Linked DNA regions of Homo sapiens: all the other regions are linked to region 1. Evidence: fine-mapped expression QTL. A gene starts in region 1. Each other region holds a variant in brackets. All regions are shown on one strand. Distances are from middle to middle.

Region 1 (8,176 bases):
AAAGGGTGTGACCAGATTGGCCACACTCTGACTGTCTGGCAAGGTGTGTTCACAACTGGGGCACCCGTCAAGCCCTTGTCACAGGTAGGTTTTTCCAACCCTGGAATCCTATATTCCTACTCAGCAGTCATTTCTCAAGTGTGGAGTTTGCATCCTGATATTTTCTTCATCTTGTGCTCAAATCACCCAATGCCTCCCTAGTTTTCCAAGAGACGCCCAAGGGTGGCAGAGGTTCTTGGATTCCTCCACCCATCGCCTACGCAGTAAACTCAAGAGGGTCAGGCTAAGCTTCAGGTCAGATTCAGAGCTTGTTGACAAACCATTCTCACAGTCACATCTCCTGACACCCAGCCCTGCCACAAATCCCATGCCTGCATTGCACAAGGTCTGGACCTCAATGGCAGGCAAGGCTGGGCTGTGCCTTGGCGGATTCTCTTCCCCATCTCCAAGAAAGGCCCCGAGAGCCTAAGCCTGTTGTTGATGTGGTCTGTCTCATGACCACTGGACTCATTTATTTTTAACGTTGGGCAATGAACAGAACTTTTAAAACACAAAGCAAACAGGCAGCTTCCCAAAGGTTTCAGGGGGTTGGCAGCAGGACAGATCCCCCAATGTGCTGTTGGGTTTTGCCATCCTCCCTTTGTCCAAGCAAGGAAGGAGCCTCAAGCCCAAGTCAGAAAGGACGTACATCTCCCGACTCTTGCCCCGCATAGAGTAACAGTCAACCTCTTTGAGATGTGATGCTTCCTTTAAATGCTTCTTAGGAAGAAGCTACAGATGACCTGACATCTTGTATTTGCTTCAAAATAATCCAGCGTGTGTGTGTATGTGTGCATATATGTGTGTGCATATGTATGTGTGTGTACACATGTGCACATCTTCTGTGAGCATAAGTATGCATGTGCATATGTGAGTATGTGTATGTGTGTGCATGCGAGGTGAGGAAACCTGATCGCTCATTATACTCTGCCTCTAACTTTGGTGTGTTTGACATTTTCCATAATAACAAAAAATTTCACTAAAAAAATGAGCCCATGCTTCTTGAAGAAAAGGCTCAGGTGGTGGAGGTGACAAACTTACTGGTGAAGGGCTTGGGTGCCAAGTCTGGATTCGAGTTTTGGCTCCACCATTCCCTTGCCGCGAGACCTTAGCCAAGTTACCTGCAATCCTCAGCAGAATGGACATGGAGGCAAAACCCACTTCTCAGGGTCCTCAGGAAGCCCATGAGTCAATGCGTCAAGGACTCAGATCAGAGCCAGTACTCGCACGCACCGTGAAACCATGAAACCATTTCCCGCTATTATTATGCTTAGGATTCAAACAAAGTCACGTCCATAAAGCACTCTGTAGCACAGAGCCGGGCACCTGGCTGCCAGTGGAACTTTAGACTGGGGGAGATGTTATCAGATAACTGGGGGAGGGGAGAGCACTCACTGAAAGTCCAAAATCGAAGTCCCTTAGAGTCTGGATTTCACTGATCTAGTGTTGAGGGCTGGGGAGAGGATAACACACCCCTGGGCAGACTGAGGCACACCTGTACCTGACCTTGTGCTGTCGTCTGATAAAATTTTTCAGAACCAAAAGATACACTGAGTCATGCACACCAGCTACAACCTATTTCTCGAGAAAAATTGATACAAAATGCCCAGACGAACTCATGAACACCGTAAGAATCAGAGGTTTCGCTGAATTTGAAAATGCGTCTGCAGGCAAGTTTCCATCCACCCAGGAGGAGGGGCAGGTGCAGGAAGGGAGCACGGCACACACCATGGGGGTGGGAGGGCAGCGCTGGCTTCCACGGGCTAGGCCCCCACCCCATTCCCCAGCTCTGGTGAAGAAATTCAACATCTGTGATGATTCCAAGGGGGTGAGATTCTGCAGCAGCCCAGAGGGACCCACTGAAGGGTGGATCCAGCCTTACTACAGCAGCCCAAGAAACGGCCTCACCCAGCTCCAAAGTGACATCACCAGGGCCCCAGGCAGGCCCACCCCTTCCTAAGAGCCCTGAAACCCACTGATTCTTCCCAGGGCCAGGTCTCTCTTAAGCCGGCATGGCACCCGCCTTGCTCCCTGCTCGGGGCTGTCTGAGCCACTGGGGCCAACATGCTACTGCTTTTGTTTTCTCTGCTGCTAGGGTGGTAGCCAGACTGGAAAAGGAAGACTTGTAAAGTGATTGCCTTAGTCCACTCCACACCTCCCCAACCGCACGCGCGCACACACACACACACACACACACACTCACACTCTCACACACACACACACACTCCATCTACTGGGTAAAGTGCTCCCTGCAGAAGAAAAGCAGCTGTAAGAGAGCAGGAGTGCTTTAAATGATCTAATCCAGCCCATCACTTCACAGCTGGGGAGACACGAAGTGCCTGGCCCATGACCTCAGTGCTGGGGACAGTAACCAAGAGCAACAGTTTCAGGACTGGGGAGTCTTGGTCCACAGCCCTGGCTGTGCAGTCTGGGTAAGTGAACCGCCCTCTCTGGGCCTCTCTAGGACAGGCTGGCCTAGACAGTAAGACAGGACTTCCCTGACTCCAAAATTCCTCAGTGTGGAGAGACCACCTGTGCTGCCCATGCTTAGCCCAGGGCTTTCCACCACTGGGAGGGGGGTCTGAGGAGGGGGACAGGGCAGAAGGGAGAGGCCCCCATCCCCTTCCTTGCTTGCTGTTCTCCTCACACCCCACGATGAGAAATGAAGTTGTGGGCCCAGCCCCCCCAACGAGAAAATTCTTCCAAGGACATCAAACCTTAGTCACCAGGGATGGCGCTTTTACCATGAACACCTGTTAAAACTCAACTCATGACCAGTTTCTGATGCTACAGACTGGAGTGTTTAATTAAATATTACTCACTCAGGAAGCAGCCCCTGCCAACTCACCCCCAAACTGTGTAGTTCATTTTCAGAGAAATGGAGAGAGGAAGAGCCTGCGCTCTCCTCGGGGGCACCAGCAGGGCTTGCCTAGTGGGGTGTCTGTGGCCCAGCATGCCCGGCTATCCAGAACCAAGTAAAGAAATCACCATGAGGAGCAGTACCTAGGAACCAGAGGGCCCCCTGGATGGTCCCCACACACACTCACAGAGAAACACACACAAAGACACACAGACACACACTTGGAGACACACAGACACTCACACATACACAGACGCACTCAGAGACACAGACACAGAGACAGACACAGAGACACGTGTGGACACACAAAGAGACACAAAGACACACACACGCAAAGACACACACAGACACAAAGACACAGAGACACACATTTGCAGAGACAGACACTCAGAGACACAAACTTGCAGAGACACACACCCAAAGACACATACACACTCACACACAGACACACACAAAGACACACAGACATACACAGAGAGGCACACACAAATACACAAAGACGCACTCAGACACACACACACACACACAGTCACTTAGAGTCTCAGGCACACATTGACAGACACACAGACTCACACACACACTCAGAGGCACATAAATACACAGATGCACTTAGAGACACACTCACACACACACCCACATGAACACACAGACACACTCATACGCAGGCACATATTCACAAGGACATGCACAAACACACACGCAGATGCACTCTCAGAGACACCCGCTCTTCCTGCAGACCCGCACCCTCCTCTCGGGGCCGTCCCGTCCTCACCGGAACCTGGACGCCACCGAGCCCAGTACACGCCCGGGGACGGTGACCCATCCGCGGTTCCTCCCGCGGGCCCAGGCCGCCCTTGTTTTTCTGATTTAATCGATTTCCTGACAACCCTCCGGCTCTCCCTCCGCTGCTGGGAGAAGCCGCGGCGGCTCCGGGGCGGCGGGGAGGGCGGCGCTCGGGTGTCCCCGGCAGGCTCCCTGGGGGAGGCGCTGCGGGAGGGTGGGGGCGCCCCGACGGGGGACCGGGCCGCGCCGCCAATCCCGACTCGGACTGGCGGGAAAAGCGAAACTAACTCAGCCGAGCGGGGTCCCGCTTTCCCCGGGCTAAAGGGGGGACGGGTCGGCGGCCCCGGAGCGCCCCAGCCCCTCCTCGGGACCGCAACTCGTTGCGACGGTCCCCGCGCCCCGAGACCCCCGCCGCGCCTCGCCCCGGGACCCCCTGCCCTGCAGCGGCGGCAGCGCGGGGCGGGCCTGGGCCCCTCTCCCAGGAGCCGCGGCGAGGGAGGCGCCCCCGGAGCCACCGCGGGAGGGGCCGCGCCCCGAGTCCCCATCCCGTACTCCACCCGCTCCCCCGCGCCCGGCCCCGCGCCACCCACTCGGTCCCCCAGCGGCGCGATCCCCGCGTCCGCCCTCGCCCGGCCCCCCGCGCCTCCCCCTCCCGGGCCGGTCGCCCACCCATCGGGGTCCCAGGTGCCCCGCGCCGCCTACCGCGCCCGGGGTGCCGCCGCCGCCGCTGCTCTCCAAGGCCGAGGAGGCTCGGGCGCCCGGGCCGCGCCCGCCGCAGGGAGCGAAGTCGCCTCCTCCCCGCGGCCCCGGCCCCGGCGCCGGCGCCTGGAGCCTGGTTCCTGCTGCGAGCGCGCAGGCTGCCCGAGCGCGACTTCTGTGCGGAGGAGAAAAAGCAACCGACGGCTTTAAAGTGAAAAAAAAGAGAAAAGCGCCGGTGGGCGGGGCCGTCCCTGCCCCGCCCCGCCCCGCCCCGCCCCCGACCTCGGGCGCACGGACCACTCAGCACTGCAGGGAAGGCCGGGGGCGCGGGGCGCGGGGCGCGGGGCGCGTCAGCCCGGCGCTGGTTCGGCCGCCCCCTCCGCCCCCTTAGTCCGCAGCCCTCTCCCGAGCCGCCGCCCTGGTGTTGCCGGCCCGAAGCTCGGGTCCCTCCGGAGGCGTCTTTGGGAAACGCGTGGCGCAGGGCCTGGGTTGCAGCCGTGGGAGGCTGGAGTGGGGGCGGGGGTCTTACGAGAAGGAGAAATCTTCGCGGAGAGTGGGGTTGTCCCAGGAACCCCGAGCAAGGCCTCGCCGGCCTCCTCTGAAGTGCCCAGCGGGGACGAGTGGGCAGCCGCCGGGGGTCCAGGGAGCCTCCTGCAGCGCTGTTTCGGCCGCTCGCGTTTCGGTGCCCACGGGGACGGGGGCCTCGGACCTCGAGACCCTGAGGGCGCGGGCACCTGGCATCCGCAGGGCTGCTCCCTGAACAGGTCCCAGCCTCTGGGGACTTGTCCTGTGGCTCTAGCTCGTTCAAGGAATTTTCCTCCCCCTTCCCCGAACAGAGCAGTCACTTGGGACTGGGAAGATTTTAAAGACTTTGCTGTTTTGAGAGCAAAATCTCCTGGCATTCCCCACCCCTCGCTGTGTAGTGTCCATTGAAAACGGTGAGGAGTTAGCCTTTCTGGGGGAGCCGAAACAAATAGCGGGGCTTCCGTAGTTACTGTGTCTTTACCATAACCCAGTACAGTGAGGGTGGGACTAATGACACACTCACTGTAAAGGCGAGGAAACAGTGCCTGGCCCGAGGCCAGCTGTCCAGAGCTTGGAACCCAATTGAACTGTGAGATTACAAAGTTTGATGTCTCTCATTTTACGGTGCTGAAAATCAGTTTGGTTTAGCTTTGTTTGAACTCAGAATAGGATTACGGAGACTCAACCAACTGCCCTGGGCTGGGCGGGCCTGAGTGGGCATTCTGACTTTCCAGGTGCCAGCGGTTTAGGAATGTTGAACCCAGACTAGTCAGGTGGGCAGCCATGGCCAGCAGCTTAGGGGTGCTTCCCATTTAAAAGATCACTTGAGGCTGGAGGTGGTGGCTCTCACGCCCTTAATCCCCACACTTTGGGTGGCTGAGGCAGGCAGATCACTTAAGCCCAGGAGTTCAAGAGCAGCCCGGGCAACAGAGCAAGACACAGACTCTGCACAAAAATTAAATAATAATAATAATAATTGGCCGGGCATGATGGCTCACACCTGTAATCCCAGCGCTTTGGGAGGCTGAGGCAGGTGGATCACCTGAGGTCAGAAGTTCAGGACCAGGCTGGGCTTGGTGGCTCACACCTGTAATCCCAGCACTTTGGGAGGTCGAGGCGGGCGGATCACGAGGTCAGGAGATGGAGACCATCCTGGCTAACACGATGAAACCCGTCACTACTACAAATATAAAAAATTAGCCAGGCGTGGTGGCGGGCATCTGTAAGTCCCAGCTACTTGGGAGGCTGAGGCAGGAGAATGGTGTGAACCCGGGAGGCAGAGATTGCAGTGAGCCGAGATTGCGCCACTGCACTCCAGCCCAGGTGACAGAGCGAGACTCCGTCTCACAAAAAAAAAAAAAAAAAAAAAAAAAGAAGTTCAGGACCAGCCTGGCCAACATGGCAACACTCCATCTCTACTGAAAATGCAAAAATTAGCTGGGTGTGGTGGTACGTGCCTGCGATCCCAGCTACTCGGGAGGCTGAGGCAGGAGAATCTCTTGAACCCAGGAGGCAGAGGTTGCAGTGAGCCGACATCGCACCACTGCACTCCAGCCTGGGCAACAGAGCGAGACTCCATCTCAAAAAAAAAGAAAAAAAAGGTAATAATAATTTTAAAAGAGCATATGACCCCCTCCAGCCACTCTGCAGTTTGAGAACTGTTGTTTACTTGGGAGACTGGTGAGAGCCTCTGGGACAGGCCCATGGGGTGCAGCCCACGTCAGTCATTGCTGAAAATCACAGCTGCCTCTGATGGGTTCATTTCTCCTTGGGAGAGTAGCCCTGTTTGGTGGATTATTCACTGTGTGTGTGGCATCTACCAGACACTGGCATCTCATGGGGCTGGTGCTACGGCCACGTGGCCTGGGGCCATGGTGTTGTCAGCTTTGCTAAGAGGAACTCCACCAAGCCTCACCTCTTAACATCTGGGAAGCTTCCAGGGCAGACTGGGGCACTTTGGAGCTAGAGACCCAGCTTTGATGTTTAAGGCCCTGAAAGACAGTTCCTGATGAAAAGTCTTCAGCACCCCCACCCCACCCCCCTTCGGCGTTAATCTGGAAATCTCAGCTCTTGATCCAGTTGAATAATTAGACCCTGCTGACCTAAATTTCCCAGAAGAACCCCTGGGGAGTGGGCCTTCTCTCCTCCAGGACGCTGGGCAGGTTGGCCGGATGATGGAAGGCTGGTCAGCCGGCAGTGACTGCTGCAGCATGGGGCAATGTTGAGCAATCCTGGAAGCCAGTTTATGTGTCAGAAGGGCTCAGAATCACCCTAGCATGCTGATACTATTGTTTGTTAAAAAAAGATACATAATCTTGCAACATTGTGACATAAGCTGATAGATACTATCCAAAAATTTGAAGGGTGACTCAGGACTTATACAAAGATCTGTGTACTGCAGGGGTGAGTCGGGAGGGAGGTGGCTCTGGGCTCCCAGTGGTGTCATCCCCAACCCCCTCCCCAACTCCACCCCACCCCCACACACATTTTATCACTTGCATCAGCACAATTTGCTCATGTCTTTAATCTGTCTCCGGGAAATGGTGAAGAGAAACTTGATAGATGGTGAATTAGCATCAGCTGCTTTTTCTGATGATGGTTCTGAGCCTTGAGCTCTTAGCACAGAATCCTGCTGCCCTCACAAGTGTTAAAGGCTGCCATCTTCTCTGAATCCCTTTTGCTGATTGGAGCAAATGTGCAAAGGATTTGGTAATAGACAAACCCAATGCAACCCCCAGCTCTGCTATTCATCAGCTGTGTGACCTTGAGCAAGTTACTTAACCTTTCTGAGATTTCCTGTTCTCATCTGTAGAACTGCTCTACACATTTCCCCAGAAACTGGGGAGGTGGTGCAATCATTCAACCAACATTAACTGAACACAATTAATTGTGCTAGAATGAAATCAAGGATTTTGAGAATTTTCAAGATAATAGGTTTTTTTTTTAAAGAAAAGCTTGGTATCCACAACACAGAATTGTAGCAAGATCCACCAGAACATGAAGAACACTGAAGCATATTAATAAAATCTACATCTATTATGCATCCTTAGCATAAGATGTGTACTTATCTCATGATGCAAAACAGAAGTAGAGTGTTTATATGTTAATTAAAAAAAAAAAATAGAGGCAGGGTCTTACCATGTTGCCCAGGCTGGTCTTGAACTTCTGGGCTCAAGTGATCTTCTTGCCGTGGCCTCCCGAAGTACTGGGATTATAGGCATGAGCCATCACAGCTGACTTCTCGCAGAATTTTGATCTCATAATATTCCC
Region 2 (8,176 bases), 130 kb after region 1:
TCGTGCTACTGCACTCCAGCCTGGGTGACAGAGCAAGTCTCAGTTTTAAAAAAAAATTAGGTGTACTCAAAGATGGTCTGAAATGGAAGTGTGACTCCCTGCAGTTACAGTTTTGTTTTTTTATAATTTTTTTGAGACAGAGTCTCACACTGTCACCTGGGCTGGAGTGCAATGGCATGATATCGGCTCACTGCAACCTCCACTTCCCAGGTTCAAGCGATTCTCCTGCCTCAACCTCCTGAGTAGCTGGGACTGCAGGTGTCTGCCACCACACCTGGCTAATTTTTTGTATTTTTAGTGGAGATGGGGTTTCACCATGTTAGCCAGAATGGTCTCGATCTCTTGACCTTGTGATCCACCTGCCTCGGCCTCCCAAAGTGCTGGGATTACAGTCATGAGCCACAGCGCTCGGCCCCAGTTACAGTTTTTAAAGCACTTTCCCATCTGCTGCCTCACCTGTGTTTTCTGGGCTGACGACAGACTAAACACCTGAGGCTCAGCCTGATCATTAAGCTCTTGAAGGATTGGAACGTGCGGTCCGCTGACAGCGCAGGCTGGCTGGCAGCGCTGCCCGTCTTTTTTTGCCCACTCCTCCTCCTGTGCTTTCTCAACAGACCTTTACTGGCACTCACTATGTCCTGTCTGCTGGGCTAGGTGCTGGGAGTAGGAACAGGAAGCTGACACTCAGTCTGGTGAGAGGGAGGTACAAGCGAGTTGGCCACCATGATGCAGGGAGACGTGTGATGCTTGGGGTGGGCACTGGGAGCCCATAGCTGAGTGAGGGGGGTTGTAGGGCGCTTAACCGAGGCCTGAAGGATGAGTAAGAGTTACTTGTGAAGCTAGAAGGGTGGGGCCTCAAGGCAGAGAGGCTGGCCCCAGAAGGCCTGGGGGGCATAGAGCCAGCATCTGAGTGAGGAGGGCCCTGGTCTGTGAGCTCAGGGACACCTCCCCTTATGCTGCCTGCCTCCACCCAATCTCCTTCAGTGAGCTGGTTTGTGGCTGAAATTCAGCCATTAGAGCTTCATTCTTTTGGCTTAAGCCAGATAGAAAATGTATTCCAGTCCTGGCACCATGGCTCACGCCTATAATCCCAGCACTTTGGGAGGCCGAGGCGGGTGGATCACCTGAGGTCAGGAGTTTAAGACCAGCCTGGCCAACATGGGGAAACCCCGTGTCTGCAAAAATACAAAAATTAGCCGGGTGTGGTGGTGCACACCTGTAATCCCAGCTACTTGGGAGGCTGAAGCAGGAGAATCACTTGAACCCGGGAGGCAGAGGTTGCAGTGAGCCAAGAGCATGTCATTGCACTCCAGCCTGGGCAACAGAGCGAGCCTCTGTCTCAAAAAAAGAAAAGAAAAGAAAATGTATTCCATATTCAAATGCAGAATCCACTGAAGATGAGTCTCCTGCGGCACCAACCCATTCCACATCAGGGCATCTGGTATTTACCCAAGGGTAGGTTTTGCCATGAACCAGGGGTCAGGCAAGGGCCAAAGACACCGAGTACTTGTAGATGTGATTGGAAAGCAAATCATCTCTATATGGGGACAGGAAGAGAGAGGACAGCGCTTGGTGGTCCACACATGTTCCTTGGGCCAGCCGTGGGCTATCCCCCCACATTCAGACATTGGGTCCTGACACTCTTTATAAAAACACTCTGTGTTGAGTCCCTTCCCTGTGGATGGAAGGAAGTAGGTTTCCTCCAGGAACGCATGGCCCAGTGTGGTGAACTTGTATCTGCTTGGCTCCTGTCTCTTCCACTGCCTGCTCCCTTGCATCCCAGATCACTGGTTCACCCCCAGGTCTGGCAGCCTTTACAGAGTACCAGGACCCCGGATGGGGGCTACAGGGAACTGTGCTTCTCCCATGTGACCCAGAGAGGCAGCAAAGGGACTTCTCCATCTAGCCCACTGGAAACATTGCTTTTATTTGCCTTTGCACCATATATTCTTTTTTTAATTTTTTTTTATTTTTTAGAGACAGGGTTTCACCATGTTGCCCCGGCTGGTTTCGAACTCCTGGGCTCAAGTGATCTGCCGGCCTTGGCCTCCCAAAGTTCTGGGATTACAGGTATGAGCCACTGTGCTCAGCCCTGCACCATATATTCTTGAACTAAAGACACATACACACACGCATGCACACACACACACACACACTTTAGATTATTTTGAATATTATCAACCTATCCATTTTCCTTGACATTTTTCAATGTATAGTATGTCCTCAAAATATGATGTTATGCCCACATTGCATTTATTTTATTTTATTTTTAGAGACAGGGTCTTGCTCTGTTGCTCAGGCTGGAGTACAGTGGTGTGATCATAGCCTACTGCAGCCTCAAAATCCTGGGTTCAAGCGATCCTCCCTCCTCAGCCTCTTGAGTAACTGGGACTACAGGTGCACACCTGGATGATTTTAAAATATTTTTTTAGAGATGGCCTCTCCCTGTGTTGCCCAAGCTGGTCTCAAACTCCTGGGCTCAAGAGATCCTCCCACCTCAGCTTCCCAAAGCATTAGGATTACAGGTGTGAGCCACCGTGCCTGGTCTGAATTTCTTGCTTTACATGTTAGCTGGGAAGTAGATGCCCTCAAGAATGGTGGAGCATATGAGCTGTCCCTCTAGGTCAGTCCCATGGCCACCCAGCTCCAGCCCTGTCTCTAGGTGTGTGAATCCCTTTTGCACAACAGAGAGCCTGGGGAGGTGGAAGGTCTTGGTGACACCTTGTGAGTTATTCACACTGGCTGTGGGTGACAGAGCCAGAGGTGGGAGCACAGAGCTCTCACAGCACAGAGGAGTAAGGAGTTGAAGCTGCAGAAACAATGCTGAGGCCTGAGGTGGAGGAACAGTTGTAAATGGAAAATTAGACGGCAGTTCTGCAGGTTGGAAAGTGGGTGATAAAGTGGGCGTGCAGGCACCATTCCAGGAGGCTGTGCCTTGTGTGCATTGAGAGCAGGTCAGGTGGCCAGGAGGCTCCAAGCTTAAAGCTGCCAGGTGAGCCAAGCATTTTTTTTTTTTTTTTTTTTTTGAGACAGAGTCTCCTTCTGTCACCCAGGCTGGAGTGCAGTAGCGCGATCTTGGCTCACTGCAACTTCTGCCTCCCAGGTTCAAGTGATTCTCCTGCCTCAGCCTCCTGAATAGCTGGGATTACAGGCGTGCGTCACACGCCCAGCTAATTTTTGTATTTTTAGTAGAGATGGGGTTTCACCATGTTGGTCAGGCTGGTCAGGCTGGTCTTGAACTCCTAACCTCGTGATCTGCCTGCCTTGTCCTCCCAAAGTGCTGGGATTACAGGGTGAGCCACTGCGCCTGGCCTTTCTTTCTTTTTTCTTTTTCTTTTTCTTTTTTTTTTTTTTTGAGACAGTCTCACTCTGTCACCCAGGCTGGAGTGCAGTGGTGCCATCTCGGCTCACTGCAACTTCCACCTCTGGGGTTCATGCGATTCTCCTGCCTCAGCCTACCGAGTAGCTGAGATTACAGGTGTGTGCCACCACGCCTGGCTAATTTTTGTATTTTTGGAGACACCAGTTTCACCATGTTGGCCAGGCTGATCTTGAACTGCTGACCTCAGGTGATTCCGCCTGCCTCGGCCTCCCAAAGTGCTGGGATGACAGGCATGAGCCACCACGCCCGGCCTGGGCCAAGCATTTTTGCAGTGACTTTCCTCCTTGTGAGCAGCCTCAGAGGCAGGCACTGGATCCAGAACCTCGTCTTGATCCTAACAGCCTCTGTGTGCCAGCTGCAATAGCATCCAAGCTACAGGGAAGCAGTTTCTATTTTCGCATTGGAGTCAGCGGCTCCTGCCTGCCTGGTGGGTCGCATCCTCCCATTCTTTGCTCAAACTTCAAAAGGGCCTTCCAGGATCCGCCTTCCCAGGGTACATTGAAGAGCTGGTGTTTCCCCACATCCACCCTCTCTCCCGAGGAAAGGCCGTGGTCTGAGGGGAACGGCAGTGGCAGGGGCCACCTACTCAGGGGGAGTGCAGGCAGGAGGTCTAGGGGTGTAAGATGGGCAGCCTCCCTGCTGCAGGGGGCTCCCAGCTGGAGCGTGGACTTGTTTCTCTCATTTCCTGAGGTTTGCTGGAGACAGGCGTTTGCTTAGCGCCGGGAGCTGTCTCCTGTGGTCTCTGTCCTTTGACTTATTCAGAGTCTCACTTGGCGTCGGTTTTCCAGGGTCTGGTAACCAGGATGAATGACGCATGGAGTTGCAACCCAGACTGCAGTTCAGGAGTTTCCCAAGCAGGCAAGGCTCTGTATCCCGTGAAAGGGGGTGTGGATACGAGATATTCTGCCCTTATTCTTATTTTTTCCTAATGTTCTTTTAGATTTATAAAATAAGTAATAATACTCATAAAAACTCAAACGGGCCAGACGCGGTGGCTCATGCTTGTAATCCCAGCACTTTGGGAGGCTGAGGCTGGAGAAACACTTGAGCCCAGAGGTTTGAGACCAGCTTGAGCAACATAGTAAGACCCTGTCTCTAAAAGAATTGTTTTAAACATTAGCCGGGTTGCCAGGTGCAGTGGCTGACGTCTGTAATCCCAGCACTCTGGGAGGCCGAGATGGGCAGATCACCTGAGG[T/G]TAGGAGTTCGAGACTAGCCTGGTCAACATAGTGAAACCCCGTCTCTACTAAAAATACAAAAATTTAGCCAGGTGTGGTGGCGCACACCTGTAATCCCAGCTACTTGGGAGGCTGAGGCAGGAGAATTGCTTGAATCCGGGAGGCAGAGGTTGCAGTGAGCCGAGATCACACCACGGCACTCCAGCCTGAAGGACAGGGTGAGACTCCGTCTCAAAAAAAAAAAAAAAAAAGATTAGCTAGGCGTGGTATGGTGGTGCACACCTGTGGTCCCAGCTACTAGAGGAGCTGAGGGGGTAAGATGGATGGCTGGAGCCGGGGAGGTTGAGGCTCTGGTGAGCTATGATCATGCCACTGTGCTGCAGCTCAGCGGGTGACAAAGCCAGACCCTGTCTCTGAAAAAAAAAAAAAAAAAAAGTCAAGCAATTCATATGTAGATGCAGTTAATGAGCTGGGCCTATTTCTGTCCTGCTTCTTCCCTAAGTCCCCAAACACCTCCCATATCAGCCTTGGGCATGTGTCCTTCCGGTTCACCCACTTCTTGGAGATGCTTTCTGTTGACTATTTGCTGAACTCTGTGGCCGCCCAGAAAATACTCCAGGGAGTGTGATGTGCGTCTATTTCCGGAGCCTCATTTCAGCAGGACTGGTGCCTGGTCAGGGTCTAGACCCTCCACCTCAGGGCCTGCCGTGGAGCAGCCAGAACCCTGGCTTCCCCCAGGTCCCCTAGACAGGCTGCTGTCACCTCTGCCCAGCTCTGGACTCTGGGGTCTCCCCAGATGAATGCACGGCTCCCTCTCCCCCAGGCCCTCATCGGGGACAGGTGGCCTCTGCATGTTCCACTGGTCTGGCAGGTCAAGAACTCAGATTGTTTTAACAGTGGGTGAGGCTTTTATGTATTCAGGTGAGACAACGAATGTGAAAGCTCATTGTCACCTGTAAAGCACCTACCAGTCTGCTGTGACGATGACGGGATGATGAGAACTGTCATCGCTCCTTCTCATTCCTGTGGCTTTACTGTGGGACCTTGAGAGCCAGAGCAGCAGGGGGGAGGTTCTGAGGGTCTAGAAGCCTCGGCAAGGGGCTGTTGCAGCCAGGGGCAGTCAGGCAGGGTCACCCATGCAGGGGCAGCCAAGTGGCTTGCCCAAGCTGGGGTCTATGCCTAGAGGACCCTCCAAAGATGCTGACCCCCTGAAGCCTGGCATCACCCAGGGAGGAGCTGTCACCACCATGGCCCTCTGGGCTACTAAAAACAACCTTTTGCCCAGGACTTGCAAGGAAGAGAGAGAGAGTTCTCGGTGGATGAGAACAGTTTTTCAGTGGCAGTGCTACAGACATTTGGGGCCAGATGATTTTTTGTGGTGGGGGCTGCCCTGTGCACTGTAGGATGTTTAGCGGCATTCCTGGCTTCTACCCACTAGAAGCCAGGAGCACTCCCTACCCTTCAATTGTGATAATCAAAAACGTCTGGGTTTTTTTCTTCTTTTTTTTTTTGAGACAGAGTCTTGCTCTGTCACCCAGGCTGGAGTGCAGTGATGCGATCTTGGCTCACTGCAACCTCCACCTCCCAGTCTCAAGTGATTCTCCTGCTTCAGCCTCCCAAGTAGTTGGGATTACAGGTGTGTGCCACCATGCCCAGTTAAGTTTTGCATTTTTAGTGGAGATAGGGTCTTGTCATGTTGGCCAGGCTGGTCTCGAACTCCTGACCTCAAGTGATCTGCCCGCCTCGGCCTCCCAAAGTGCTGGGATTACAGGCATGAGCCACCACACCCGGCCCCAAAAATGTCTTTAGATATTGCCAAATGTCCCCTGGGTGACAAAATCATCCCCCAAACTGCTGGATTAGAGGCTTTGGAAATGGATTTTCTGTGACCACTGCTTCACCATTGTAAGCTGCCTCTCATTTGGGTGCAGTTTTCTTTGTTCCTTTTCCAAAAAGCTGACCTCATCGGGCCCATTTGTTTGTTTCGTTGACTCACCCAGTCTAACCGCAAGCAGCCTTCCTCCTCTGGGGGATCCCAAATGACTTATCATGGGACTTTGTATGTAAATTTCAAAGATTATTTTCTACTAAATCAGAGGCAGAAATCCTCAACTTCTTTTTTAGCAGCCTTGGTAAATACTTCCTTAGAGTGTTTAAGGGGCGTGCCGCACTCCTGCTGGTGGTCTGATTGTGAACACCTTTGCTGTTCAGTTCCCTGAAATCGCCAAATATTTCCCTCTCCTTTGGGTCTCAGCCCAGTGACTAGCGGATGATCTAAGGGCCAGGGCGGTCTGAGTTGGCTAGTGCACCGGGGATTTTCTTAAGGCCTTTGACCCGGGGACTGGTGTGGGAGGAAGGCAAAGGCCTGGTTGTTTATGAGCAAGGAGGAGTCAGGTCCGAGGATGGAGCCCTTCGGGGTCACTGCCCTGGGCCCTGCCCCTCTCCTGCACATCAGGCCCCTTGGACAAGGCCCGTGTGTTTGCAGGACCCTCTTGGGGCAGCAGAGCAAGGGCTGGCTTTGAGAGAGAGCCTCACTTTTTTGTTTTTTTTTTTTTTTTTTTTTTTAAGTAGAGACGGGGTTTCTCCATGTTGGTCAGGCCAGTCTTGAACTCCTCACCTCAGGTGATCTGCCCTCCTCGGCCTCCCAAAGTGCTGGGATTACAGGCGTGAGCGACCGCGCTCGGCCAGGGCTTCACTTTCAAGCTCAGTGCTGCTCTGAGGGGTGGACACAGCCCTGATGTCAGTAGCTGAAGACCTGCCTGGCCACACTCAGCAGCAGTTAGCCTTCTCCTCCCGCGCCCCGTGAACAAGGCTGTACCCTGGGAGGTTGGGCTCTGTCTGAATTCCATCACAGGTCCTCTCCTGGGCCTTGCCCTGCTTTGTTGCCTCCTTAGGAGGATGTCTTCTGGTTTCCTAGGAAGGGCTTTATATCTTAACATCCACCCTGCATTCAAAACCCAAGTTATCAAGACCACAGGGCACCACAACCCTCCTCTTGGCCTTGCGGTTTCTATTCTTCAGTGACTCCCAGAGGTTTGGCTTGATTGGCAGCTTAGAAGCACATGATTGAACTTGAGCAGTGGTTGAAACTCAGAGTCAGATGCCTGACCCGCCCCAATCCCAGGCACAGAGTCTGACCTCACACCCAGGCTGTGCTGTGTACTCAGTTGTTCAGTATCGACTTGAGCTTGACGGGCATCAGGGGCCAGGGAGTGAAAGGGAAGAGAAGCCAAATCTGGCTGCTAAGGGCTCTCAGTCCTGGAGGGCAGGAAAATAGTGGCCTTGCCGCTAGACCTGATGCCACCTGCCCCTCCAGCTGTACCCCCTCAACACCTTGGGTAATACCTCAAGCCCCACGTCCTCTTCCAAGCCAGATAGGACCCCAAGTGCTGGGTGATCCTTATTGAAGGGTAGGGACAGGAGGGACCCGTGGGATTGTGTGTGCTCAGAGCGGAGTTCAGGGGCACCTGAGGGCAAACTGTCTCTTTGCTCCCAGGGCTGTCCTCCGTGCCTTTACCTGTGCTGGGCCCTGGCAGAGCTCTGAGTCTTCTGGATTCCAGCGTCCATAGTAGCTAGTCTGTCCACTGCTGGAGAAAAGCTGCTTTCCCAAAATAGCCA
Region 3 (8,176 bases), 72 kb before region 1:
CACAATGGCTCACACTCTGCTCCTAAAAAGCCCACGGTCAACTCAAGTTCTACAACCCCACAAACCAACCTGATGCGCTCACGAAGGCACAGAATCACTGTCTGTTAGACTTGGCAAGTTTCTGCAGCTTGGGCTGCCAGGCTGAGGAACTTCTGAAATGGGGATGAGGCTGTTCTGGGGTCCTCCCTCCAGGACTCTCCTTCTCCTTCTCTGTCTGGGGCTTTGCCTGGCATCCCACCCTCTGCCAAGGGGTGGTAGGGAGTCAGCCCATCATCTGCTGAAAACTGTGGGCCGTGGAGCTGGCTGGACCCAGGAGGGGTCAGCTATGTCTCTTTCCCCTCCCCCGAGGCACAAACGAGGAATTCAAAAATGGTTTGATATTTTAACAAACGTTCCTTTATTAGGTTACTGACTATTATCAACCATCATAAAATAGAACGGGAGTTTCAAAACTGTACAAGCCACAAGGCTCTGGGCTGGTAGGAAAGAAGGGTGGGGTCGAGGGTCCCAGGGTGTCGGGGGGTGGGAGATGCAGAGAGAGCTAGAGGGTCACCCGGCATCTGTGAGGACGGCTGGGTCAAGGCCATAAGCTGGGATCTGTACAAGGGAAACATTCATCAGAATGTGACCCACCTGAAACAGGAGGGAGGAAAATCTTTAAAAGTCTTACAGGTAAGGTCCCCTGCCCCGAAAAAAAAAACCGTCAAAATAATAAGGGGGTAATGTACATTTCTCACCCAGTCTTGGCACCAATTTTGTGCTTTAAAAAATATACTCCACTGTAAGATTTACTTAAAAAAAGGTACTCTACAGCAGCTGTTTAAAACATAATTCTTACAGACAAATATATATATATGTATGTATATATATTAAACATTTTAAACAAATAAAGTCATCTATTGTACCTGTGCAGAAATGAACCAAAGTTAGACTCTAAGAGAGTTAACTTCAAGCTCAAAGAAATGGCAAAGGCGGTGGCAGGTGCTGGGGTACGCTACGTGGAGGGGTTGCCAGGGATAGGGCACCCCTCTCTTCCGGCAGCCGAGCTACCCCTCTTGAGGCTCTGAGAGGGGTTGGGATGAACTGGGGCTGTTACCCTGGGTCCAGAGCCCCGGCTGGGGTGCTGAGCAGAGACCCGCGCTGGCTTCTGTGAGGCTCGACTCTGCTCCTGGTCTTCCCCATCCCACCCTGCCCCCGGCTTCTCGGGGAATGGAGACCCACTCGCCCTCCCTTCTTAGTTCTGGGGGTCCTCTGGCACACCCAGAGCTTCTGAGGATGCACTTGGGAAATCTCAGCTAGAAAAGCAAAAGCAAAATCAAACCCACATCAAAAGACCCACAGAAGACTAAAGAAATGCAACCCTGTGCAAGGGTGCCTGAGCCCAAGAGTTAGCTGGTTACCTGGAGACACAGGGGAATTGCTGCAGCCCTTCCAGACGGGCCCCCGAAGACACCCAGATTGCACGTGAGGCTATTTCTCCCTGAGGGGCCCGCTAGGGAACTTGGAGCAGAGCCCCCTGGAAACTGCAGGGCAAGGGACCCAGAGACATACTTGTGCCTGGGCACGTGTGCACATGTGCCCAGGGAGGGCGGGCGAGGCATACATATCCCAGGGAGGGCACAGGTGGAAGGAAAGTAACAGAACAGCCAGAGAGAGGGGACTGAAACAGGGTTTCCTTTCTAGATGGAATAAATAAATGGCTTTTGTTATTGTTAAAAGAATAAATACAGGGTACGGGGCACCGGCAGCCAGGATGGGTGCTGGGTGCTTATTTGCCTGCAGACAGTTCTTGGTTTCTGCCTTGGGGTCCATGGTGAGTTTTTGACGTCCTGAGCTTTATCTGCCATGGCATGGCCCCGCTGGGCACCCTGGGCCGGGCACCAGCCCTTGTCTAAGCACCTCTTAGTACCCCTGGTATCTGCTCTCAGAGCTGTGGTACCACCTGCCACCCCCACCACCCTGGGACCCCCAGGTGGCTGCAGCCTTCTCCCAGAGGTGTGGGAAGCACCCGTCCCACCCCGAGCAGATTGGAGCTCAATGTAGGGCTTTCGTAGGAGTTTATTCTCTGTGTCTTTTTTCAAAGAGGGGTTGTATACGGACGGCATGCAGGGATGCTGCCTTCTGCTGATGTCGGGAAGGGGGAAAGAGGAGCCTGTGTTGGAATCGGTCCTTGTCCCATGGAGGCAGCCACGGAGGATGAGGGAAGACCAGGGACCTCTGTCCATGGCTACGGATGCCGGTCCAAGGTGCAGGGTGCGGCGGCCCCAGCGGCAGGCGGCTCAGTGAGTTGGCACCAGGTGGCTGTCGCGCTGGCGGTATGATGGCGAACGTCACTGGTAGAGGAGGTAGGCCTTGAGGGAAGCCGGCAGCGGCAGCGTGTGGATCTCCCCCAGGCGCTCCCTCCCCAGGGCCAGGCGCACCGAGCGACGGCACAAATCCATGAGCGGCAGCGGCTCGGCTGGGGAGACAGAGAAACTGCAGGTCAGCGCAGCTTGGGTGGGTGTTCAGCAAACAGCGCTAACCACAGCAGCAATATTATCACTGATTAGTATTCACTCAAATCAGTAAAGAAACAATGAAAAATGCAATGCTTTTTCATTTTAAATTTAGCATGTGAATAGCTGCCACCAGGAGCCCACCCTGGGCTGGGCACCTGGGCGAGCCCTCTGCTAACACTCATTTAATCCTCACAGTGGTTTCTTATGAATGACTTAATAGTCACAGAGACACCATTACCTTCATCCCCATTTTACAGATGAGGAAACTGAGGGACAGAGTCTAAATGACTTGCCAGGGGTCGCCCTGCTGGCAGGAGATGCAGCTAGGATTCGAACCCAGGCGATCCCTGCTCTTCCCCACTGGTGACTCTGCCTGTCCAGGCAAGCAGCTGCCATTGGGGCCTGTCGGTCGGAACACATGGGAGCCAGCTCTTCCTGGCACGCACCCCCAGCACTAGCTTCAGGAAGGGAATCATTTTCTGTTACCAGCTGCTCTCAGATACCATTCTCACCTCTGTTTTAAAGCTGAAGACTAGCTGGGCATGGTGGTTCACGCTGGTAATCCCAGCATTTTGGGAGGCCAAGGTGGGTGGATCATTTGAGGCCAGGAGTTCAAGACCAGCCTGGCCAACATGGTGAAACCCCGTCTCTACTAAAAATACAAAAATTAGTTGGGCGTGGTGGTGTGTGCCTGTAATCCCAGCTACTCAGGAGTCTGAGGCAGGAGAATCGCTTGAACCTGGGAGATGGAGGTTGCAGTGGGCTGAGATCACGCCACTGCACTCTAGCTGGGCGACAGAGCAAGACTCGGTCCAAAAAAAAAAAAAAAAGAACTGAGGACACACAGGCACAGAGGGGACACCCAGTGTGCCAAGGTTCAGGGCTGGGATCTGAATCCAGGCAGCCTGGGCCCAGCGTCCATGCCCTTAGCCACTAACCATGCTGCAAAGGAAGACATGGCAAACCCTGTCCTGAATCATACGTGACAGGCCTGGCTGGCCCCACGGCCTGAAGGTGTCATTTCTGTGCCACATGGAGACAGAGAAACCCCGGGTGTCTGTGCTTCTGTCTGACAGTGAGGCTGAGGGCCCAGGCCAAGCTCAGGCCCCAGGAAACTGGAAATGCCAGCCCAGTTTCAGCTGATCCCCCAGAGCTGCCTGGGCCTTCTCCCCGCAACTGCCCCAGGCACATGGGGCTCTCTCACAGCCAGGGGAACTTGGGCAGAGCTGCCTCAGGCCCCAGGGTTACAGAGCGCTTCCAGCTGCAGCCTCCCAGGCACCTCCATCCTGTGTTCCCAGAGCGCCCAGCCTTGCCTTCCTACAAAGGAGGCTGAGTTCATTCAGCTGCATCTCAGATGAGCCGTCAGCTTCAGATCTCAGGAGTCTGAAACTCATGCCTTCCAAGGCTTCTGAGCGTTGGAAGGCTGCGCGGCCCTGCTCGCCCGCTTCGCCAGAGCAGACCCCTCTTTGCTCTCTTTCCTGAAACCAGGTAGGAGTGAGCACACCTGGACCTTCGTGGGGCCGCCCACGCTGTTCTGCAGATGGAAAGCCCTGAAACTAATGGATCTGAGGCTTCATCCACGGTCTCCCCTTGACTTTGAGACTCCTTTGTGAGCAAAATAGCCCCCAAAACTAAAAGGAACCCGCAAAACTCCATCCTACCAGTAAAAAGTGGATTAAAGTTCTTTAATATTCACCAATGTGTCTCAAATATACGAAAATCAATTACTGAAGACCAAACACTACGGGTGGGGCATGGCAGAATGGAGAGAGGCTGCTTATGGGTATAGGGTTTCTTTTTGGGGTGATGAAAATGTTCTAAAATTGTTTCCTACATCTCACCACGCAAGAGGCCACTGAATTGGATACTTTAATGGGTGAATTGTAAGGTATGTGAATTATAGCTCAGTAAAGCTGTTACAAAATA[G/A]AAGAATGGACCTTAGGCTTGATAATGCATTTACTAAACCCCAAGCTTTAAAAGAAGAGGGACCAGGTCAGGCACAGTGGCTCATACCTGTAATCCCAGCACTTTGGGAGGCCAAGGACAGAAGACTGCTTGAGCCCAGGAGTTTGAGACCAGCCTGAGCAACATAGGGAGACCTCATCGCTACAAAAAATAAAAATCAGCCAGGACTTGGGAGACTGAGGCGAGAGGATCGGTTGGGCCCAGGAGGTCAAGGCTGCAGTAAGCTGTGATTGTGCCACTGTATTCCAGCCTGCGTAACAGAGACCTTGTCTCAAAAATGAAAACAGGCCAGGTGTGGTGGCTCACGCCTGTAATCCCAGCACTTCGGGAGGCCGAGGCCGGCGCATTACCTGAGGGCAGGAGTTCAAGACCAGCCTGGCCAACATGGTGAACCCTCATCTCTACTAAAATTAGTATACAAAAATGAGCCAGGCATGGTGGCATGGGCCTGTAGTCCCGGCTACTCGGGAGGCTAAGGCAGGAGAATCACTTGAACCTGGGAGGTGGAGGTTGCAGTGACCCGAGATCACACCATCGCACTCCAGCCTGGGGTGACGGAGCAAGACTCTGTCTCAGAAAAACCAACAACAACAACGACAACAACAACAACAAAACAACAACAAAAAAACCCCAAAACTGAAAAAATAAATAAACAAAAGAAGAGGGACCACTGCTCTTCATCCCCCATGGACGGTCACAGCCACAGCTCCTGACAAGGAACTGAAATGTTCTGTATTTTTAATGGAGAATTTTGAAAGGGGGCCTTTCGTGGCCAGCTTAGGATGATTAAGAGGAGCTCTGATTGGAGACGAATGGAGGAATGAAATAACCTTGGGTTCTTTAAGGTCAAGGATCCCACAGACCCCTCGTGATGGGGTGGGACTGGGTTCCACCCACCCGGCTCCTCACAGGGTTGGGTTTCCCTCGGGTAAAACACCCAGCCTGGTGACTCCAGACCCTGCCCCGCAGCCTGACCTGGAGCACATCCCTCCGTCTGCCCGGACTTGTTTCCCCATCTGTAAGACACGGAATCCAGACCAGATTCTCCCCAAAGTCCCATGCAGCCAAGATCCTGAAGGCCAGAAGTGCTTATCGCAGCCTGTGGTCTGGCCTGGCTGTCGGGAGTAGGTCTTCTGCACAGAGGAGTGGGGAATTTGCAGGTGTGTTCTCTTCTCTGCTTGGGAGCGCGCCTGCATCTGGCCTGCATCAGGGCCAAGGGGTCTGGGCTGCCCTGAGCTCCCTCCCGGGAGAATGTGGCTCAGCCCCCGCCGGAAAGTGGAGGGGCTCTCCCTCGTGGCTGGAAAGCACCTGAGAAAGCTCCAAGAGCCACTGAATGTGGCCCAAGAGCCCTGCCAGGCTGCAGCAGTGAGGGCTGAGAGGGAGTTCAGTCACTACCCTCTTGGTGTAACGGGTTTCCAATCAACCCATGAAGAAATGTTTCTAGGCTGGACGCGGTGGCTTATGCCTGTAATCCCAGCACTTTGGGAGGCCGAGGTGGGTGATCACCTGAGGTCAGGAGTTTGAGACCAGCCTGGCCAGTGTGGCAAAACCTCATCTCTATTAAAAATACAAAAATTAGCTGGGTGTGGTCGTGCATGCCTGTAGTCCCAGCTACTTGGGAGTTTGAGGCAGGAGGATTGCTTGAACCTGGGAGGCAGAGGTTTGCAGTGAGCTGAGATTGCGCCACTGCACTACAGCCTGGGTGACAGAATGAGACTCCATCTCCAAAAAAAAAAAAATTTTCTAAAACTGCAGAGGCCCACATGAGCCCCCAGCTCCATCCAGTGCCTTATTTTGAGTGGCTGACACCGCAGCCCCAGCCCCAGCCATGGCCTGTGGGGCACCAGTCGTGTGCCTGATGGGGACTGTGACCCCAACCTACAGATAGGGAAATGGGCTTGGGGAGGTGAGAGTTACAGGTCCAAGGTCTGAGAGCCATGGACTCCAAAGGGATGAGGCCCTCCAGCTGCCACAATCCATCCCCTGTGAACGCAGCTGTGTGGGGTAGAGGACTTGCCACAGCCTGGCCATCTCTGGATCTCACTGAATAAACCAGTTAGGGATGGGTCATGGGATCCACCAAGACGGGCTAGAGAAGTGGCAGTGAATGGCTGCAGTGATGTGTTATGAGCTGAAAATAGGACCAGAGTCACCCAGGCATCCTGTGAATGGGTCTCTTCTCTGGGTCCTCAAGTACATAAACAGGTCACGCCTCCTTGATCTTGCAGGAGGAAACTGATGGCGCATAGGGCCCGGTCTAACTGCTTTCCAAAGGCTGGGCAGAGACCAAGAATGCATGGCCACAGAAACAGACGTGGGCTTCGTGCCGTGAAAAAATGCCCAGCCCCCATTTCAGCTGGTCACTACCAGTACCAGGGAGTTCTCCCCAACCTCCACACTCTTGACTGGGGGCTGCCAGCTTTGCACCCAGCTCCAGCCACAAACCCAGGTGCCTGCTGAAATCTACCGAGGGGGTGGGCACCTGCACTGTGGCCTGGGGCCTCTGGCTGCTATGCCCATCCCCAGGAAGCTTAGGCGCTCATTCATTTAAATAATTTCTGTGAATGAGAGTGCAATGCTGAATGAGCAGCAAAGAAATCAGGAAGTCAATCAGGCGCTATTTCTGGGAGCAGAAGCCTGAGGAACTGGAAGAGACAGTGCACCAGCTTCCACATTTCTGTGAGAAACGGCTACCTGGTGGCCCACGTGAACATGCACAGCCCCAGAGCCCCAACCCACAACTGTCTCACTGTTCCCCGAGAGATTTCAACCCAACTCAAGCCTCAAGAGTGTGGTGCTGTGCCCAGTTCACGGGCTGAGTGAACGAGCTGCAGAACGGTGAGGTCAAGGAAAAATGTTCCGCATCAGAGAATGCCCCGGCTTCCGCAATGTCCTCGCTGACAGCTGTCATGGCTCCTGTGGCTGGCCCTGCAAGCAGCTTGTGGGGACCACGCTCCAGGACATGGATTCTAGAATGTCACGGGTCGGGTGGCCATCATAGGATGTGTGTGTGTTTTCCTCTACACTACGCAGTTCTTACGAAAGAGCACAGCCAAACACAACGTGGAGCCTTTGTCCTTGTCAACTGGGGAAGGACGCCTGAGATCCACCTAGGTGATCAGACACCCTTGGTCCCCTATCCCCCCCAAACTCTGAGAGCCTGCGGTCCTCATATGACCAGAACTTCTGGAGGGTGTGGGGAATAGGGTCTGGGACAACCCCTCCCCGACATGGAAGGAAGGAAGGAAGGGAGGGAGGGAGGGTGGGTGGCCCTGGTGGCGGTGTATCAGTCTCCCGATGAGTAGCTCCCGGCAGAGTCCAGCTGGAGTGGAGTGCAGGAAGGAGGCACCCGGGAGGAGGCTCTGATCTTGAGGAGACGAGCTGACCTTCCCTGAACCTTCAACCACGACAAACCACACCAAACCCATCTGGGAGCCGTTAAAGAAAATTCGAAAATGCTGAACTGCATGGAAGATGCCTCCTCAGTGGGAGATGTCTTTAAAGCAGTGGGGGTAGAGCCAGAGGACCCACAAGGTCAGGGGCTCCCCCTGGACAGCCTGCCAGCCTGCTGCTTGCAAACAGGCCTTTCCACATCTCCAGGGAGGGTGGCGGGCAGGCCCGGGGTCAGGCCAGGCCCTGTGTCTCCCCACTCAGCAATGGCCATCTCCACTCCTGCCCTCCAGGAGAGAGAGGGAGAGTGACACAGCAGCCTC

Evidence for each region.
Region 2: its variant is fine-mapped to the expression of SPSB1 in macrophages (Nedelec 2016, PIP 0.95).
Region 3: its variant is fine-mapped to the expression of SPSB1 in whole blood (INTERVAL, PIP 0.97).

What each region holds. Positions count from the first base shown.
Region 1 is chr1:9,289,280-9,297,455 of GRCh38, reverse strand. SPSB1 (splA/ryanodine receptor domain and SOCS box containing 1) reads right to left here and starts at 4,562. Exons shown (of 3, transcript NM_025106.4): 1 at 4,385-4,562. RefSeq lists silencers at 3,628-3,917, 4,458-4,527, 4,598-4,677, 4,728-4,897.
Region 2 is chr1:9,162,489-9,170,664 of GRCh38, reverse strand. The region is part of intron 1 of MIR34AHG (MIR34A host gene); the gene reads left to right. Among named protein-coding and RNA genes, the nearest start is that of MIR34A, 15 kb to the right of the region's middle. RefSeq lists enhancers at 132-631, 632-1,133, 6,411-6,740 and silencers at 5,851-5,900, 7,671-7,740, 7,891-7,960. The variant T/G (reference allele first, on the strand shown) is at 4,579.
Region 3 is chr1:9,361,730-9,369,905 of GRCh38, reverse strand. SPSB1 (splA/ryanodine receptor domain and SOCS box containing 1) reads right to left here. Exons shown (of 3, transcript NM_025106.4): 3 at 374-2,458. The coding sequence ends at 2,331. Among named protein-coding and RNA genes, the nearest start is that of LINC02606, 63 kb to the left of the region's middle. The variant G/A (reference allele first, on the strand shown) is at 4,425.